Homo sapiens: one gene and its partner. The protein of the gene in region 2 purifies or fractionates together with the protein of the main gene of each other region. This does not show direct contact. Each region holds a gene or a part of one and is shown on either strand. Other genes may lie near its edges.

Region 1 (4,980 bases), on a different chromosome or scaffold from region 2:
CACTCCCCCAAACTGTGGGAATCACAGCCCTTCCCCACCCCAGACTGGTGCAGGTTCCTTCCAGTGTTGGAGATGACAATGATGGTGATGGCGGTCACATTTATGGAAGGCTTACTATGTGTCGGGCAGTGTTGTCAGTGGTCAACGTGTACTTTATCACGAATCCTCACAGCAACACTTTGAAGCAAGTACTGTTACTCTCAATTAGGAAACTGAGGCAAAGGGTGAGGTTGAAAAACTTGCTCAAGGTCACATGGCTAGAAAGTAGCAAAGCCCAGATTTGAAAGTGGGAAGTCCAATTCCAGAAACTGCTTCCTTAACCACTTGTAACTGTGGTTTCAGGCCAAGGGACACACTCAAATTACCAGCACCTATGGGTCCAGTCACACCAGGTGGCTTGTACAGATCTGAGAATAAAACCCAAAGTGCCACGGGTTGGGGATCATCTGGCCAGCCAGGTCTTCCCTGTCTTGTCTTCTGCCTTGATTCTGACCCCAGAGATCACATGGGACTGCAAGAGTTTCCGGGAGGGCTCAGTGATGGAGCACCCAGCAGACCACCAGCATGCCTTAGGGCTGTAGGGGTCACATCCACTGCAAAGGGCTACGTTCCATGAGAAACACAAAGATGGATCCCAAAGGGCACTGGTCCACAAAGGGCTGACAGGTTGCAGGGTCAGACAGCAGAGATGTCCGTTTTCAGGACACAAGACGGAAAACACCGACAGCCAAAAAAGGGGGCCGGGGAGGGTGGGGGAACGGCATTCATTCCCTGCTGGGGAGGGAGGGGAGGCAGCATTTGAGCTGAGTGGAGGACGGGAGGAAGGGCAACCCAGGCAGAAGGTCCAATCTGGGCAAAGGCCCAGATAGAGAAAGAGAGAGACCAGCGGGCAGAGGCCGGCTGGGAGGGTGCACGCAGAGAAGGGTGGGGGGAAATGCGTGAACAGCAGTCTAGGACACCTGAACTCAATGCATGAGAGGCCACCGAAGAGACGCTCATTACCAGTGCTGTGCTTTACAAAAATAACACTAGTTCACAATGGCAAGACCTTCCAGAACGATGCCAAACACACCCAGTGAGGGGGCAAATTCATAGGTACAGGTACAAGGGTCAAAGTTGGTATAAATTCCAAATTAAAATAAATATGGATAATATTTAAACTGAGCCTTAGGCTGGTTGAACGTGATGTTCCAGAACCCAAATGTTCTGTCATTGGGTCTGGGGCAGCTGCAGCCATTCTCACTCATGCCATGCATCAACTGACTCATCTGTAAAGCAGTCCCAAAGAGAGGCCAAAAAACCCCTCTTCAGATCTACAAAAACATGTATCTTTTAGCAGTGTCTGTGTTTAGATATACTCATCAATATGTGACAATAACAGTAAACATAGGTAGCATTATACGAGGACATACAAAATCACTATTGGGAGGCCTGTCTTCAATTTTGAATAAAATTCCTATTTGCCACAATGCAGATACTCCCAGATTCGATTTTTCTCAGGTCTTGAGTCCTGTTTCGTGATTGCAGTACTGCATTATTCTCTCCTGCAACTGACGGCAAAAACCACCATCCCTGCTTGGCAGGCCCCTTTGGAGGCTGAAGGCCAGTGGCAAGGGGCACTGTTGCCTCTACTGACCTGATTAACCATCTGGTGCTGCTGGACAGTTCTCTTCTCCTTAAATTCTTCTGATTCAATTTTAATTTCATACATCGCCCCACAACCTCCTAAAATAAACATGATTCAAAAGCATTTCAATTATTAAGTCATGGCAGCCATGGTCCCATATATCCTTGAAGTACTGTACAATCCAAAGGTCTGAATATTATCATTCAGCACAAAGGAAAGTTGCTAAGACCATTAGGAAAAGATCATGGCTTCCAATCTGACCACATGCTCCTCCTGACAGGCTGCCACAATCCAAAATGTGCTCTTCCTTTTGCGAGGCAGCTGCACCACCCAGGGTTACCACTTGTGGGCAGGAAAGATAAGGCACAAAGCATGGACAACCTAGGGAGTGTAGAGTGTTTCCTTTCACTAGGCCAATAAACGCCACGGAAGAGGATGAGAAGGACGGAATTTCAGCGTTCCAGCTTCCAAAGGACCAACAATCAGTGTTTTTGAAGTGCAAAAATACACTACAATTTGGTTTGAAAACTGTGTAATACTGTCCAAAGAAAGGAAAGAACCAGGGGAGCATGAGAGCCAGGGACACAGCAAACATGCTATGCATGGAGCTGCTCGGGGCTGTCTCTGGCACTGCTGGGTCCACAGCACAGCATCCAGGATTTCATCCTGGCTTTTGGGGGGAGAACTTTTTGGTGAAGCCCTCGAGGCAGAGCTTGGTGGGCCATCCACCCCCTGCCTGAGCTTTCCTCCACCTGGCTGGAGAGCTGGTGCTGATGACTGATGATAAACACACAGCTCTAGCATGAAATAACATGGGCAAGAATATGTCCCCTGCATGATTTACAGAGCCAGGCCATTGTGTGAGAGGTGCAACGTACTCAACAGGCTTTGCTCTGCTTCTTTTTTTTTTTGAGATGGAGTCTCGCTCTGTCGCCCAGGCTGGAGTGCAGTGGCACGATCTGGGCTCACTGCAAGCTCCGCCTCCCAGGTTCACACCATTCTCCTGCCTCAGCCTCCTGAGTAGCTGGGACTATAGGCACACACCATCATGCCCAGCTAATTTTTTTTTTGTATTTTTAGTAGAGACGGGGTTTCACCGTGTTAGCCAGGATGGTCTCGATCTCCTGACCTCGTGATCCACCCGCCTCGGCCTCCCAAAGTGCTGGGATTACAGGCGTGAGCCACCGCGCCTGGCCTGTTCTGTTTTTCTTATAATGTGCTCTAGGAGTCCAAGTTTTGGTTAAACCCAGGTTCTCAGCCTCAACTCCCCTTCTGCACTCTGTCCAGGACTGCGCAGAGCCACAGCTGAGTCAAGCTCTAACTCTGCCCTGGGCCTGGGGCAAGTTCAGGACCTGGTAACATCAAGGCCTCAGCATTGCCCCAAGACTCCTGCAGAGCCCTCACCTGATGTACCATTCCAGCAGATTTTTTTTTTCTTTTTGAGACAGAGTTTCGCTCTTGTCGCCCAGGCTGGAGTGCAGTGGTGCAATCTCAGCTCACTGCAACCTCTGCCTCCCAGGTTCAAGCGATTCTCCTGCCTCAGCCTCCTGAGTAGCTGGGATTACAGGTGCCTGCTACCATGCCTGGCTAATTTTTTTTTTTTTTTTGTATTTCTGGTTGAGATGGGGTTTCACCATGTTGGCCAGGCTGGTCTCGAACTCCTGACCTCAGGTGATCCACCTGCCTCAGCCTCCCAAAGTGCTGGGATTACAGACATGAGCCACCGCGCCTGGCCCCAGCAGATTTTTTTTTTTTTTTTTTGAGACACAGTCTCGCTCTGTCACCCAGGCTGGAGTGCAGTGGCATGATCTTGGCTCACTGCAGCCTCCGCCTCCCGGGTTCAAGCAAGTCTCCTGCCTCAGACTCTTGAGTAGCTGGGACTACAGGCGTGTGCCACCACGCCCAGTTAATTTTTGTATTTTTAGTAGAGACGGGGGGGTTTCACCATGTTGGCCAGGCTGGTCTTGAACTCCTGACCTCGTGATCCACCTGCCTCAGCCTCTCAAAGTGCTGGGATTACAGGCATGAGCCACTGCTCCAAAACCCCAGCAGATCTTTAGATTGATTTATTTCCTGTGGTTTCCAGAATAAAATCTACTTTCTAAACTTTCTCCTCAATCCTTGGAAATGTTATGTTCTCAGTAAAGTCAGTGAGCCCTCATGGCAATGCTGAGTGGCAAAGGCTGCCTCTGGGTATGGAGAGATTCAGACTGATGCCTATCCAGCGGCCCACGCCACGGGCCGTTCTGTGTGTACGTGTGTGTGTGTGTGTGGATAAAGGGCCTATCTTCCCCATCCTGTGGATGCAGAAGTTGCTTCTCCAGCCTGCTCCTAACACACTGCCAGCCTGAACTTCTAGGTGCCAGTGGCCACCTGAGAAGGACAGCGCTTGGCTGGGGCTGGTAACTGGGCTTAGGACAGAGTCTCCCCTGAGTCCCGGTTCTGGTTCCAGTTCCACTGTCTCTTCCCTATGAGGAGCTAGGCAATTCCTTTGGCCTCTCTGGGCTCATTTCCTCTTAGGGAAAGTAAAGCAGCTGAAGAAAATCTTTCTGGGGTCCACTCCAGCTCTGATATCCTAGGGTGTCAGAAGAATGGGGGAAAATTAGAGCAAAACCTATTCAAAGTCAAATGACAGACTGTGGACCTCAGCTCTAGGGTGACTGAGAGGGACCTTGTCTGAGCTGAGCCAGGCTGGCAACCTTGAGTCCTCCCAGCTGCGCCTTGTCCTCAGTTTCCCTCTGATATTTCTGAATCCTGACTGCCATCCCATGAGGTGGGGGCAGCCGAGCTCCACCTGTCCAGCAGCAACACATCTTGAGAAGCCACTCACCAGCAGCAAGCCCCCTCCTCCAAGCCCCTGACCCTCTGTCCTTCCAAAGGGCAAAATCTTATCCAAGCGCCGTAGGAAGAGTGAGAGAAACCTTACCTGAAATGTCAGTGACTTTTATAGCTGTAGCTCGTGGAAACTTTTCTTTGAGAATTTGGGTCACTCTGAGCTCCCCCTCAGTCTGAGTGGCAAACATCCGATGGTGAAGTGGAAGCTGCCACAGAACAGAGAGGAAGGTCAGGGCAGAGGAAGATGCTGTTGCCCCTGAGCTGGGCCACTGTGCAGGCCCGCCTGCCATTCCCCCTGCAAGGCAGGCCCCTGAGCCCTCGCCAGCACAGCCATGGGTTATGTCAGAGGGGCTCTGTGGTATCAGGAGTCCATGTAAGTGCCCCAAAACACAGAATAAACTTTTATTGGCGGGGACAGGATGATTGTTAATAACTCAATTTGACTCCAGAGACAAGAGGCCCCAAACCTAATTCAAGAGATGTTTGCTTCCATATAATGTTGTGACACTATTATGCCG
Region 2 (4,980 bases):
ACAGAGAGCCAAATCATGAGTGAACTCCCATTCACAATTGCTACAAAGAAAATAAAATACCTAGAAATACAACTTACAAGAGACACAAAGGACCTCTTCAAGGAGAACTACAAACCACTGCTCAAAGAAGTAAGAGAGGACACAAACAAATGGAAAAACCTTCCATGCTAATGGATGGGAAGAATTAATATTGCTAAAATGGCCATACTGCTCAAAGTAATTTATACATTCAATGCTATTCCTATCAAGCTACCATTGACTTTCTTCACAGAACTAGAAAAAAAATTACTTTAAATTTCATGTGGAACCAAAAAGGAGCCCGCATAGCCAAGACAATCCTAAGCAAAAAGAACAAGGCTCAAGGCATCACGCTACCTGACTTCAAACTATTACTACAAGGTTACAGTTACCACAAGAGCATGATACTGGCACCAAAACAGACATATAGATGAATAGAACAAAACAGAGGCCTCAGAAATAACACCACACATCTGCAACCATCTCATCTTTGACAAACCTGACAAAAACAAGCAATGGGGAAAGGATTCCCTATTTAATAAATGGTGCTGGGAAAACTGGCTAGCCATATGCAAAAAACAGAAACTGGACCCCTTCCTTACACTTTACAACCAACTCAAGATGGATTAAAGACTTAATCGTAAAACCTAAAACCATAAAAACCCTAGAAGAAAACCTAGACAATACCATTCAGGACATAGGCATGGGCAAAGACTTCATGACTAAAACACCAACAGCAATGGCAACGAAAGCCAAAATTGACAAATGAGATCTAATTAAATTAAAGAGCTTCTGCTCAGCAAAAGAAACTACCATCAGAGTGAACAGGCAACCTACAGAACGGGAGAAAATTTTTGCAATCTATCCATCTGACAAAGGGCTACTATCCAGAATCTACAAGGAACTTAAACAAATTTACAAGAAAAAAAAAAAACCCATCCAAAAGTGGGCGAAGGATATGAACACACCCTTCTCAAAAAAAAAAAAAAGACATTTATGCAGTAAACAAACATAAGAAAAGCTCATCATCACTGGTCATTAGAGAAATGTAAATCAAAACCACAATGAGATACCATCTCACGCCAGTTAGAATGGCAATCATTAAAACATCAGGAAACTACAGATGCTGGAGAGGATGTGGAGAAATAGGAACACTTTTACACTGTTGGTGGGAGTGTAAATTACTTCAACCATTGTGGAAGACAGTGTGGCAATTCCTCAAGGATCTGGAACCAGAAATACCATTTGACCCAGCAATCCCACTACTGGGTATATACCCAAAGGATTATAAATCATTCTACTATAAACACACATGCACATGTATGTTTACTGCAGCACTATTTACAATAGCAAAGACTTGGAACCAACCCAAATATCCATCAACGATAGGCTGGATACCGAAAATGTGGAACATATACATCATGGAATACTATGCAGCCATAAAAAAGAATGAGTTTATGTCCTTTGCTGGGACATGGATGAAGCTGGAAACCATCATCCTCAGCAAACTAATACAGGAACAGAAAACCAAAAACCTCATGTTCTCACTCCTAAGTGGGAATTGAACAATGAGAACACATGGACACAGGGAGGGGAACATCACATACCTGGGCCTTTCAGGGGGTGGGGGGAAAGAGGAGGTAGAGCATTAGGACAAATACCAAATGCATGCAGGGCTTAAAACCTACATGATGGGTTGATAGGTATAGCAAACCACCATGGTACATGTATACCTATGTAACAAACCTGCATGTTCAGCACATGTATCCCAGAACTTAAAATAAAATTTTAAAAAGTAAAAAAGTACTTCCATTGCAGCAGTAGCTAGGAACAACTACATACAGATGGAAAAAAAAAAAAGAAAAGAAAAATTCCAGCACTATACAACTACTTTCATTCTCTTAACTCCTAAATGTTAATGTTCTATCTTTGACCAACTTATACCCAAAAGGGGCACTTCCACCCACATCTTTAGTCTACCAACTACAGGTAATAACTTCCAAATCTCTGTCTCCAGCCACAATCTGTCTCCTGAGTATCAGACCAACACATATCTCTCTGAACATCTTCACTTAACTGTCCATGAGAATTTTTAGCACAAAGCACACCAAACTGAACTCATTCCCAATCTGTTCCTCCTATATGACTATTCTGGTTACTGGTATCATGCTCCAAACCTGAGAGTTATCCATTCTGTTTTCTTCTCCTTCACTAATACTGTATTAGTCAACAAGTCAAGTTCCACTCTACTTTAAAAGAAAAAAAAAAAAAACCTCATAAATCTATATCCTCCATTTTCAAGGCCTCTGTCTTGGTTTAGGTATATACCTATTTGAGACTGGGATTACTACATCCATCTACTAACAGTTCTCCCTACTTTCAATCAGGCTTTTACTTCAATTATTCCTCTATATTGCTGCTAACATGATCTTTCTAGAATGTAATTTAAGTCATTTCCACCATTTACAAAGCCTTCAATGATTCAAAATAAAAACTTAAAACCCTTAGCAGAATATCCTGTCTCCTGCCACCTCTTTAGCTTTATTTCTTCCTCATCTTCTGCGTAAAACACTAAATTCCAAACACAACACTGCAGTTCCTGGAAAAAAGTCATACTGTTTCGGCCGGGCGCGGTGGCTCACGCCTGTAATCCCAGCATTTGGGAGGCCCAGGTGGGCGGATCATAAGGTCGGGAGATCAATACCATCCTGGCTAACACAGTGAAACCCCATCTCTACTAAAAATACAAAAAATTAGCTGGGCGCAGTGGTGGGCGCCTGTAGTCCCAGCTACTCAGGAGGCTGAGGCAGGAGAATGGCATGAACCTGGGAGGCGGAGTTTGCAGTAAGCTGAGATCACGCCACTGCACTCCAGCCTGGGCGATAGAGCGAAGACTCCATCTCAAAAACAAAAAAAAAAAAAACAAAAAAAAAAAACCAAAAAACCTCATACTGTTTCTTACCTCGATGCCTCTGCATATGTTATTCCCTCTTTCTAGAAGGTTCTCTTTTTGATATGGTAAATTTGACCTACTCAAGACTTAACCATCTTGTGTAGCTTTCAACTTCCTCCATTACTCCTTGATCCCACAGCATTTAATAGACACTCTTTCATACTATATTACAATTGTCTATCCTTTTCTACTAAACTTTGAACACTGTGAAAGTAAAATACATTTATTATTCATTTTTGTGTCTTAAATGCCTAGCACATTGTCTGGAAATAGTAAGTGATCAAAACTATCTGAAAAATGTTTCTGCCTTTTTCTAGAAACAAAACAGTTAAAAAATATTCCACAACAGACACAGAACAGGTACTTAAGAAAAACAACAGGAACTAGGCAAGAGACAACTCAGAAAAATACATGGGACAGAAAAAGAAAAATAAATGAAGTCTCTTCAGGTAGCTCCTGAGAGCACACTCTTCTGTGCTCTTTGTCTCATATTCTCTCACCAACATGTTTTATCTATTTAATCTTCAATGCTTATTCTGATTTCCTAGAAAATAAGTGGTAGGCACAGAGAGAAAAATAGAAAGCCTTAAACAACTATTCCTCAAAAATGAGCACAGTCAGAACTTTTAAAATGCCGTAGTAAGACCCCCGATCTATGGAGTCTCAATTTCACTTCTAATAGTTACCTCCTAAGAGTTGAGATTACAATGCACATTTTACAAACCAGTTATCGTACATTCTCCCTTCATAGATTCCCAAAAACTCTTCCTGAACTTAAATTTTTTCTCTTATGGTGAGAAATTACATAAATTCACTATTTACTCTGTAAACATGCTTTTACATTTCTATACTTAAAATACTTTCCTTCCACGTTGCCCCACTTGGTCCCTGAACAAAAACTTCCCCCAGCTGAATTCTCTCTACTATTATATTGCCAGTTTTCCAGGATCACAAATGAAGAGAATTAGAGAACTCTCTTCCAAATATGGGGCCTCTAGTGTTCTTGATCCCTTTCTTTTCTCCAGTGGCAACTATACCCAACGTTGCCCCTGATGTAAAACAAATTCAGAATCCATTCAAGTCCATAATTAAGTTTAGATGTGTGTGAGGGACTGGGATCGTGTAGACCAGACTCTACATATTAAGTTAGAAGTCCACAACAGTTACTCTTAGTTTGATGTAAACGTAACCATTAAGTTATATTCAAACAACAGGTGCCAAGTTTGTAATGAGCACTAACTGAAAAATAAAGGCATAAAAATCCATGTCATGTCTAGCAGTATCTAGTATAACATAATCATAAATTAGATATTTTGAAGAACAGGTGGGGGGGAAAAAGACTTGGAAGTCTTAAGTATATTACTCTCTGGTGATAAAACTTCTCTAGCCAGGTTTTTCTCCCCTCCAATCATTAGCATCTTCTCTAGCCCTACTCTTTCAAAAAGACCAGTTCTTCAAGTATCTTTCCTGGTAGGATCCAACCTACCACGTCTAACTCCCAGGCTTAGATTAAGCTGCCTTGTAACTGTGATAATTATGTTATACAAAGAGATTACTACGTTTAAATTTATCTTTACCCAGCTGCCAATTCATTAATTCCAGTAGATCAACAATGGTCGGGGAAGACAGGAAAACTGTTCTCTACAGACGCGTGTCAACTAATAAATTCAGAAGGAATGAGGGAAACAAAAGAGCCACCATTGGAACACAATGGCAAAATCCATCAATGAATGCTAAGACTAGTAATCATCTGAAAGCCTGAGAGTACCTACCCCCAAATATGTATTAATTTCAAAAGAGAAAATAGTAAGTTTACAGTAGAGACACCACGTGGATTATTACTTTAACCAAGTGATCACAGTTATCATCACCAGTAAGAAGTCATGTTAGTATCATGTGCCCTCTGACATTAAGTGTTGAGGCGAACACTTTGCCCATGTGGTATTCTTACTGAGATGTTATGAAATGCATAACATCAATTTAACCATGAGAAAACATCAGACAAACTC

The links.
Region 1: the proteins of SDHAF3 (region 2) and BOLA3 purify together in Homo sapiens (affinity purification with mass spectrometry; one large-scale study listed by BioGRID and IntAct). This does not show direct contact.

Annotation. Positions count from the first base shown.
Region 1 is NC_000002.12:74,140,636-74,145,615, forward strand, and holds part of BOLA3 (bolA-like protein 3), read right to left. Parts: intron 4,669-4,980; coding exon 4,554-4,668; intron 1,726-4,553; coding exon 1,637-1,725; intron 1-1,636. UniProt on the Homo sapiens protein: Acts as a mitochondrial iron-sulfur (Fe-S) cluster assembly factor that facilitates (Fe-S) cluster insertion into a subset of mitochondrial proteins. Probably acts together with NFU1.
Region 2 is NC_000007.14:97,119,816-97,124,795, reverse strand, and holds part of SDHAF3 (succinate dehydrogenase assembly factor 3, mitochondrial precursor), read right to left. Parts: intron 1-4,980. UniProt on the Homo sapiens protein: Plays an essential role in the assembly of succinate dehydrogenase (SDH), an enzyme complex (also referred to as respiratory complex II) that is a component of both the tricarboxylic acid (TCA) cycle and the mitochondrial electron transport chain, and which couples the oxidation of succinate to fumarate with the reduction of ubiquinone (coenzyme Q) to ubiquinol.